2 separate regions of the Homo sapiens genome follow, and region 1 is linked to region 2. Evidence: fine-mapped expression QTL. A gene starts in region 2. The other region holds a variant in brackets. All regions are shown on one strand. Distances are from middle to middle.

What was found. PIP is the estimated chance that this variant, and not a neighbour inherited with it, causes the effect. A credible set is the group of variants that fine-mapping cannot tell apart.
Region 1: its variant is the best candidate, but not a certain one, in a credible set for the expression of ADAMTS16 in cerebellum (GTEx, PIP 0.89).

What each region holds. Positions count from the first base shown.
Region 1 is chr5:5,215,986-5,220,378 of GRCh38, forward strand. The region is part of intron 10 of ADAMTS16 (ADAM metallopeptidase with thrombospondin type 1 motif 16); the gene reads left to right. Among named protein-coding and RNA genes, the nearest start is that of ADAMTS16-AS1, 42 kb to the left of the region's middle. The variant T/C (reference allele first, on the strand shown) is at 2,652.
Region 2 is chr5:5,138,710-5,143,058 of GRCh38, forward strand. ADAMTS16 (ADAM metallopeptidase with thrombospondin type 1 motif 16) reads left to right here and starts at 1,621. Exons shown (of 23, transcript NM_139056.4): 1 at 1,621-1,830; 2 at 1,955-2,057. The coding sequence starts at 1,759. It overlaps ADAMTS16-DT (ADAMTS16 divergent transcript), which reads right to left and starts at 1,345. Exons shown (of 4, transcript NR_109915.1): 1 at 1,247-1,345. ADAMTS16-AS1 (ADAMTS16 antisense RNA 1) reads right to left here. Exons shown (of 2, transcript NR_198969.1): 2 at 3,429-3,662. RefSeq lists an enhancer at 827-1,393.

The DNA.
Region 1 (4,393 bases), 77 kb after region 2:
GTGCTGCTATAAACATGTATGTGCAAGTATCTTTTTTGAATAATGACTTATTTTCCTCTGGGTAGATACCCAGTAGTGGGATTGCTGGATCAAATGGTAGTTCTACTTTTAGTTCTTTAAGGAATCTCCACACTTTTTTCCATAGTGGCTTTACTGGTTTACATTCCCACCAGCAGTGTAGAAGCGTTCCCTGTTTACCACATCCACACACAAACATCTACTGTTTTTTGATTTTTTAGTTATGGCCATTCTTGCAGGAGTAAGTGGTATTGCATTGTGATTTTGATTTGCATTTCCCTGATCATTAGTGATGTTGAGCAGTTTTTCATATGTTTGTTGGCCATTTGTATATCTTCTTTTGAGAATTGTCTATTCATGTCCTTAGCCCATTTTTTTTTTCTTACTGATTTGTTTGAGTTCATTGTAGATCCTGGATATTAGTCTTTTGTCAGACGTATAGATTGTTAAGATTTTCTCTCACACTGTGGATTGTCTGTTTACTCTGCTGACTGTTTCTTTTGCCACGTGAAAGCTCTTTAGTTTAATTAGGTCCCAGCTATTTATCTTTGTTTTTATTGCATTTGCTTTTGGGTTCTTGGTCATGAAATTCTTTTTTTTTTTCTATTTTTTTTTATTATACTTTAAGTTTTAGGGTACATGTGCACATTGTGCAGGTTAGTTACATATGTATACATGTGCCATGCTGGTGCGCTGCACCCACTAACTCGTCATCTAGCATTAGGTATATCTCCCGATGCTATCCCTCCCCCCTCCCCCCACCCCACAACCGTCCCCAGAGTGTGATATTCCCCTTCCTGTGTCCATGTGATCTCATTGTTCAATTCCCACCTATGAGTGAGAATATGCGGTGTTTGGTTTTTTGTTCTTGCGATAGTTTACTGAGAATGACGATTTCCAATTTCATCCATGTCCCTACAAAGGACATGAACTCATCATTTTTTATGGCTGCATAGTATTCCATGGTGTATATGTGCCACATATTCTTAATCCAGTCTATCATTGTTGGACATTTGGGTTGGTTCCAAGTCTTTGCTATTGTGAATAATGCCGCAATAAACATACTTTGACAAACTGAGAAAAACAAGCAATGGGGAAAGGATTCCCTATTTAATAAATGGTGCTGGGAAAACTGGCTAGCCATATGTAGAAAGCTGAAACTGGATCCCTTCCTTACACCTTATACAAAAATCAATTCAAGATGGATTAAAGACTTAAACATTAGACCTAAAACCATAAAAACCCTAGAAGAAAACCTAGGCATTACCATTCAGGACATAGGCATGGGCAAGGACTTCATGTCTAAAACACCAAAAGCAATGGCAACAAAAGACAAAATTGACAAATGGGATCTAATTAAACTAAAGAGCTTCTGCACAGCAAAAGAAACTACCATCAGAGTGAACAGGTCATGAAATTCTTTTCTAAGCCAGTGTCTAGAAGGGTTTGTCCAATGTTATCTTCTAGAATTTTTATAGTTTCAGGTCTTAGGTTTGAGTCTGTAATCCGACTCAAGTTGAAGAGTGTAGTACAGACAATTTGAGGAAGTGAATCTGGTAGTGTGCCATTCACAATATTGAAGCACCACAATGCAGTTTCAGCCCAGCCATCTGAAAATGTTGGTTTTACCTGGGGTGTTATGTTGTGGTGTTAAACCTTAACCAAGTTGGTATTACTGAAATTGGTTTTTGTGAACATAACTCTTAAATTATGGACTAGAATAAAAAGAGAGAGGCTTCATTAAAGATAGTATACCTTAGCTACAAAGATAAAGCAAGAGTAAATACTCTGCGTAGGTTTTGACTCTTTTCTGCCCAAGTTAGGTATTTGTTATTAAAAACATTTTGTCTTCATCGTGTACCTATCATGCTTTATCATCATTGCTTTGGTGGCCTGACCCTGCAATCTGAAACATAAGCCGCCAGAATTGCTTTGAAATTTGATCACCTCAGCATCCTAGGTACTGTTGTTAAATTGGGAGTAACCCCAAAACCCAGCAAGTCTTACATTCCAACTGCCTGGACTCTAGAACCGTGATTTAATAGGATCTTTGTTCCAAGAAGACTCTGAAGTTTCATTAAGGATATAATGACCTACAACAATAGTGCTTTAATAAAACCATGGTATGTTATGTACCATAAAGTTAGCAGTTAAGTCAAAGTGATAAAGTTGGACAGGACAATTGGTTTTTGGCTGCTCATTTGTAGTTTACTTTTCTTTTTTTAACTTTTTCTATTTAATGTTTATGGATACAGAATGGTTGCACATATTTATGGGGTGCTTGTAATACATCGATACTGAAACAGAAGAGTTCCATTTTCCCCCTTGCAGGACATGAGACAGGGGTGTGGCTCGCTCCTTCTGTCACCCCTCTGCTCAAACCCCTAGTGGGAGCACGCAGACAGGCAGGTACAGAGACTGTGGGGAGCACTCTTGGGCTCCGGCCCCACGGCAGCCTCTAGGAGTGGGTGTCTGCAACTCCCAAAGCCCAAGTGAGCATGTGTTACGGTGTGCTCCTTCAGCTTCTCCATCTGTGGATGGCTTGTGTTAACCAGTTCAATAGACCCTGTGCCTTATTCCAAGGGCAGAGGGCCAGTGTGACAGCTTTCTGTATCCTAAGCTCTTTCCCAGTG[T/C]ACTGGAAAAACTGGGTCACCCCTGTGGCCTCAAAGATGAGTGCGAGGTTTTATTGAGTAGTGGAGGTGGCTCTCAGCAAGGTGGATGGGGAATCAGAAGAGCAGGATGGAGTGGGAAGGTGGTCTTCCCCTGGAGTCAGGCTGCCCAGTGGCCAGACCCTTCTCTGGCTGCCCCCAGCTGAATTCCCCTTAGCATCCAGACATCCCTCCTCTCTTCCTCTGCCACGTCATTCATCTTTCCACCGTCACTGGTCTGCCGGTCTGCTGGTGTCTGCTGGTCTGTTCCTCTGCTTCTCTTGACCACGTTCAGCCACTGTGTGTGCCCATTAAGGTCTCAGGTTTCCACGGGCACAGGATCGGGGGCGTGGCAGGCCAGAGTAGTCTTGGAAAATGCGACATTTGGGCATGAAAACAGGAGTGTCTGTTCTCACTTAGGTCTGTGGTACAGGCCTGAGTGTGGAGCCCTCTCCAGGGACCCCCCCTTCTCTACTCAGCAACTCCCTGCCCCCTCCCATATCAATACAGGCGTACAATGTGTAATATTCAAAGCAGAGAAACTGGGATATCCTTCACCTTAAATGTTCATCATTTATTTGTGTAAAGAACATCACACTCTTCTAGTTATCTTGAAATATACAATAAATTGTTGTTAACTATCGTCACCCTATGGCCCTACTAAACATTAGGTGTTATTCCTTTTATCTAACTGTATTTTTGAACCCATTAACCAACTCCTCTTTATTCCTCCCATCCCCCTCCACTACACTTCTCAGCCTCCGGTAACTATCATTCCACCACTACAAAATCCATTTTTTCACTTCCACGTGTGAATGAGAATGTACAATATTTTTATTTTGTCATCGCAACTCTTTAAGACACTATAGTTTTTATTCGTTTGTATGGGACAGAGTGTCATGTTTATTAAATGGCAGACAAGTACATCTACAGGATACCAAGGTCCCAAATTATGTTTTAAGTGTTGAAAGACAATACCGTGGGTTATATGATCGTCAGTTTCTTCTAACTTTGTGATTTATTCCAGCCTTGAGGACTGGAGTTGGGGATTGAGCAGGTCCCAAAATGAGGCTGAAAAACACAGATGGCATGAGCCGAATCACAGACTGAATTAGAGAGCCACATGACTTGGCAGTGAGCTGTCACCAGCATCCTATATTTGAAGGCTTTATACTTTAAAAAGTTGAAAGCCCAAACCTTTAACAATATCATCATCAGTATTTATTCTGCAAAATGCTCCCCAAAACTAAAACCTAAGAATATTCTGAAGTTACTCTGAATGGTAGTCTGAATCATGGTCATCTTAAGTCATCTTTGGCTTTTTATGATCACGATTTCCTGATTCTTGCTAATGTTATTGTACGTAAAGCTTTCCTGGTCCTCTGTCACTGGTTTTCACAGGAGCAAATGACTACATGTTCCATGTGCCCAGAAAGCATTTATTGAAAGACGAGTAGCAAGCACTGTACCAGATAATGATAAGGAACATAGTAAAATAATTTAACTTTTTTTTTTTTTTTTTTTTTGAGATGGAGTCTCACTCTGTCACCCAGTCTAGAGTACAGTGGTGCCATCTCGGCTCACTGCGACCTCTAACTTCCAGGTTCACGCCATTCTCCTGACTCAGCCTCCCGAGTAGCTGGGACTACAGGCACCCGCCACCACGCCTGGCTAATTTTTTATATTTTTAGTAGAGACGGGTTTCACTGTGTTAGCCAGGATGATCT
Region 2 (4,349 bases):
CAGGCTGGAGTGCAGTGGCGGGATCTCGGCTCACTGCAAGCTCCGCCTCCCGGGTTCACGCCATTCTCCTGCCTCAGCCTCCCAAGTAGCTGGGACTACAGGCGCCCGCCACTACGCCCGGCTAATTTTTTGTATTTTTAGTAGAGACGGGGTTTCACCGTTTTAGCCGGGATGGTCTCGATCTCCTGACCTCGTGATCCGCCCGCCTCGGCCTCCCAAAGTGCTGGGATTACAGGCGTGAGCCACCGCGCCCGGCCTACTGCTCACTCTTTGGGTCCACTCTGCTTTCATGAGCTGTAACACTCACCGTGAAGATCTGCAGCTTCACTCCTGAGCCCAGCGAGACCACGAGCCCACCGGGAAGAACGAACAACTCCAGAGGCTCTGCCTTAAGAGCTGTAACACTCACCGCCTAGGTCTGCAGCTTCAATCCTGAGCCAGCGAGACCACGAACCCACCAGAAGGAAGAAACTCCGAACACATCTGAACATCAGAAGTAACAAACTCCAGACGCACCACCTTAAGAGCTGTACCCACTCACCGCGAGGGTATGCGGCTTCATTCTTGAAGTCAGTGAGACCAAGAACCCACCAATTCCAGACACACTATGGGCTCACAGCGTGTACTCGCGCACACGCAGTCAGGTGTGGATGTACACCCGCGCACACCCAGGCACATGTACACCCGCGCGCTCACACACCCCATCCAGCTACAGCAGAATTCTGGCCAGGCTGTTGACCGCACACCTGCTGCCTCCTTGGCCACCCTGTCCACACAGTAGCCCGATCGACCCCCGTGGCGGCCGAGACCCAGGCCCATCCGCAGCCCTGAGACCTCCCTAGGGATTGCACCCAGCAGCCAGTCACCGGCCTCCGCGGCCTGGCCAGTTGAGGGTGGCCGTGACCGCGGGGCCAGGAGCGCCGCCACATCTCGGGGCAAATGGCGCGGGGGAAGAGTTTCCTCCTCAGCCTCCCCGTCTCCGATCGCTCCGCAAACTCCAGAGCGAGGCACGCGCCTTTAAAGGCAGGTCCGCGGCTCTCCCACGTCCTGGCGCCCGGTTTTCCGCACCCAGTGTCCCCACAGCTGTGCCCGGGCACAGAGGCGCGGCCAGACCGCACTCCGCGGGCTGCAGGTGTCCCGGCCTCTGGCGGCGCCGGTGCGGCCCGGAGGTGGGAGCCCGCGGAGCCACTGCAGTAGCTGGAGTCCCGCCGAGTCCCCAGCCCCAAGGCAGGGCAGGAGCGCGCACCGGCCGGAGGTCCATGCTGAGCATCGCCCGCGCCGGTGCCCGGCAGCCTCTCCAACTGTGTGGTCCCCGCGCGGGCAGAGAGGCACGGACTGCAGGCCGTGGGCAGCTCCATCTTCCCGCGTCCTCCTCCTCTGGCGCTGCCCGCTGTCTCCCGCCTTCCCTCTGCTCCCCGCTCGCCTCCGCCTCAGCGCCCCGCTGACCTCGCCTCCTCCCCTCTGCTCTTTGTCCCTGCACTCTCCCCTCCTCGGTCCTCTGACCCCCCCGCCCTCACCTCCTCCCCTCCTCTCTCCCCTGCCCGCCCCGCGCTCTCCCACCGCTCCCGCCGCCCCCGCCGCCGCGGCTGCCACTCCGCCCCCCGCGCCGCACGGAGCTTCAGTAATAACCCCGGCGCGGCGGCGGAGTCGCTGTGGGGAATCCTCCCGCGCTCTGCCTGGGTCGGGTCCTCCCTGCCCGCTCGCACGCTGCCGGCCGGGGACCCTCCGGTGGCCCCTAGCCCCTCGGAGCGCTCCTGGATGAAGCCCCGCGCGCGCGGATGGCGGGGCTTGGCGGCGCTGTGGATGCTGTTGGCGCAGGTGGCCGAGCAGGTGAGTCCCGGGCGCTCCCACCAGCGCGGAAACCGCGGGTCCGGACAGCTGGAGGCGAGTCCCCCGCGGCTCCTCTCCCGCGGACCCCGCCGTCTCACCGCGATGTCGCCGCTGTTTTCCGCAGGCACCTGCGTGCGCCATGGGACCCGCAGCGGCAGCGCCTGGGAGCCCGAGCGTCCCGCGTCCTCCTCCACCCGCGGAGCGGCCGGGCTGGATGGAAAAGGGCGGTAAGTCCGTGAGGTGGGGGCTTCTAATCCTTGCCATTTAGCAGCTCGTAATCTCCGTGCCGCTGGTTTATTAGGTGCTGTGAATGTTCACGACTCTGTGGAACCCTACTTTTAAGATGCTGTTGTGAACTTTTTTTTTTTTTAACTGTATGAGCGAGCCCCGATGAGTGGATTTCCACCAATATTTACATTTTATTCCCTGGCAAAACGGTTTGCCAGAGTTATTGATATAACATTAGGAAAAAGGTGAGGAAGTTCATTTTATTTTATTCTAAAGAGCTTAGGAAGAATCTAAAGCTATTAATGTATGCATCAAAGCCGTCATAAAGAGCAAATTACTTTCTTTTCCGTCCCCTTCTACATCCTCGGATCCTCCTTCCCGTCCCCAACCTTTCCTCCTTCTCCTCCTTTATAGATTAAAATATTCCTCTATCGTTGCTTATTCTCAGTGAAGGAGATAAAAGAAGCGCTTAGCATCTCAATACCAAAGTTAATGCTCCAACAATCAGGGCGTACTTCAAACATAATAGTGCCTGAAATGGCTAATCAGCTGATTGTGACACCATCAGCAACGTTCATATCCTGGGCCACAATTTGACATGAGGGCAAGTCTTATTCTTTTTCAATGCATGCTTTTACTTCTGCCACTTACAAGTGACATTTGGAAATTTGCTGTCTTATGGAAAGGGATCTCTGTGTCTTCATACTGCATCAGGTAAATGAGAACGCAGGTGTGTCGCACTGGTTGCTAGGTGGTTTTTTAACCTGAACCCATCCAATGACAGTTAATAAATATTATTTTGCATTGTTACCAACAATAAATTGCCGTATCAAATGTTAATATTAATTGACTTTTATAGGAAGAACTAGGTTTCATTCTCTCAATGTATTTCCAGAAGATCTAGAAAATTAAAGTTAACAATTCAGAATTTCTCAGTATAGTTATTTCAATTTGATAAAATAACATAAAGGCAAGCACTTAATATATGCATTAACTTTTGAAATTATTCCCTGCCAAATGAGTACACAAATAGTATATAAGGTGACCGGTGTCAGATTGACGCTCACCATAGTACCTTTTTGAGAACCACCAGGGGGCGCTAGGTGCAAATGATATAAAATGTTAAAAAAAATTGTCACAGTGAATTTACAAGAGAAAGTTAATTATCTGTCCATTTACAGACTATCCTCTTGTGGTTGTCCTTGTCCTTTTTAGGGTTTTGCTTACAATACTAAAAGTTAATTCTTACAATTTTAAAGGTTAATTCTAATTCACCTTTTTAAGTAAGATTTTTGTAAAAAAAAAAAAAAAAATTCTAGTTCCCTAAAACCATGAAAATTCCAGAGGGACTCAGGAGATTTCCACAATAGTTTATGGCATTTATGAAGTTTTATTTAAGATAAAACACATTATAGACACAGAAGAAAGAAGAAGAAAAGCCAGGGCTTCGTGCCTAAGTGTGCTTTTCTCCTAAAGTGATTCAATCTGCTTCAGCATCCTCTCTGGGAGTGGGGTGCCAGTGTGCTGCTCTGAACACCTGGCACCACAGTTGTTGTCACAACGTATCGTCTCCATGACAACCACTTATCTGGCTTGGTAAGAACCTGAAGGGGAAGAGGCAAACCCTTCTTAGTGAAGTTCTAGCCCAGTGGACACAGCACACACCCTCCTCCCCTACCTTCTATGCACTTTAGCTCCTTAATTATAAATGGCTAATGTGTGAGTCTGGACATCCACAACAAGCTTTTATGCCACCAGAGAAAAGATCCTCCTCAACAGTGTTGCCTGTTTCCCTCTGACCTGGAGCAGAAGAGCTAGAAGACACTTGGTGACTGCTGGGGTCAACTTACTGTTGCCTGTCTAGGTATCCATTAGACAAGTTGGTTCTGAAATAACTAATTGTAGCCATACATTTTGTTTAAAGTAGCGCATGACTCAAACTATTATTGCAAATCATTCTTGGTGGCTGAAGTAATTACAAAATAGCAAAGAGAACAAAGCTGGAGGTGTCACACACTACCTACCTGACTTCAAACTATGCTACAAGGCTACAGTAACCAAAAAAGCATGGTACTGGTACCAAAACAGATATATAGATCAATAGAACAGAACAGAGACCTCAGAAATAACACCACGCATCTACAACCACCTGATCTTTGGCACATCTGACAAAAACAAGCAATGGGGAAAGGATTCCCTATTTAATAAATGGTGCTGGGAAAGCTGGCTAGCCATATGAAGAAAACCGAAACTGGACCCTTCCTTACACCTTATACAGAATCTAACTCAAG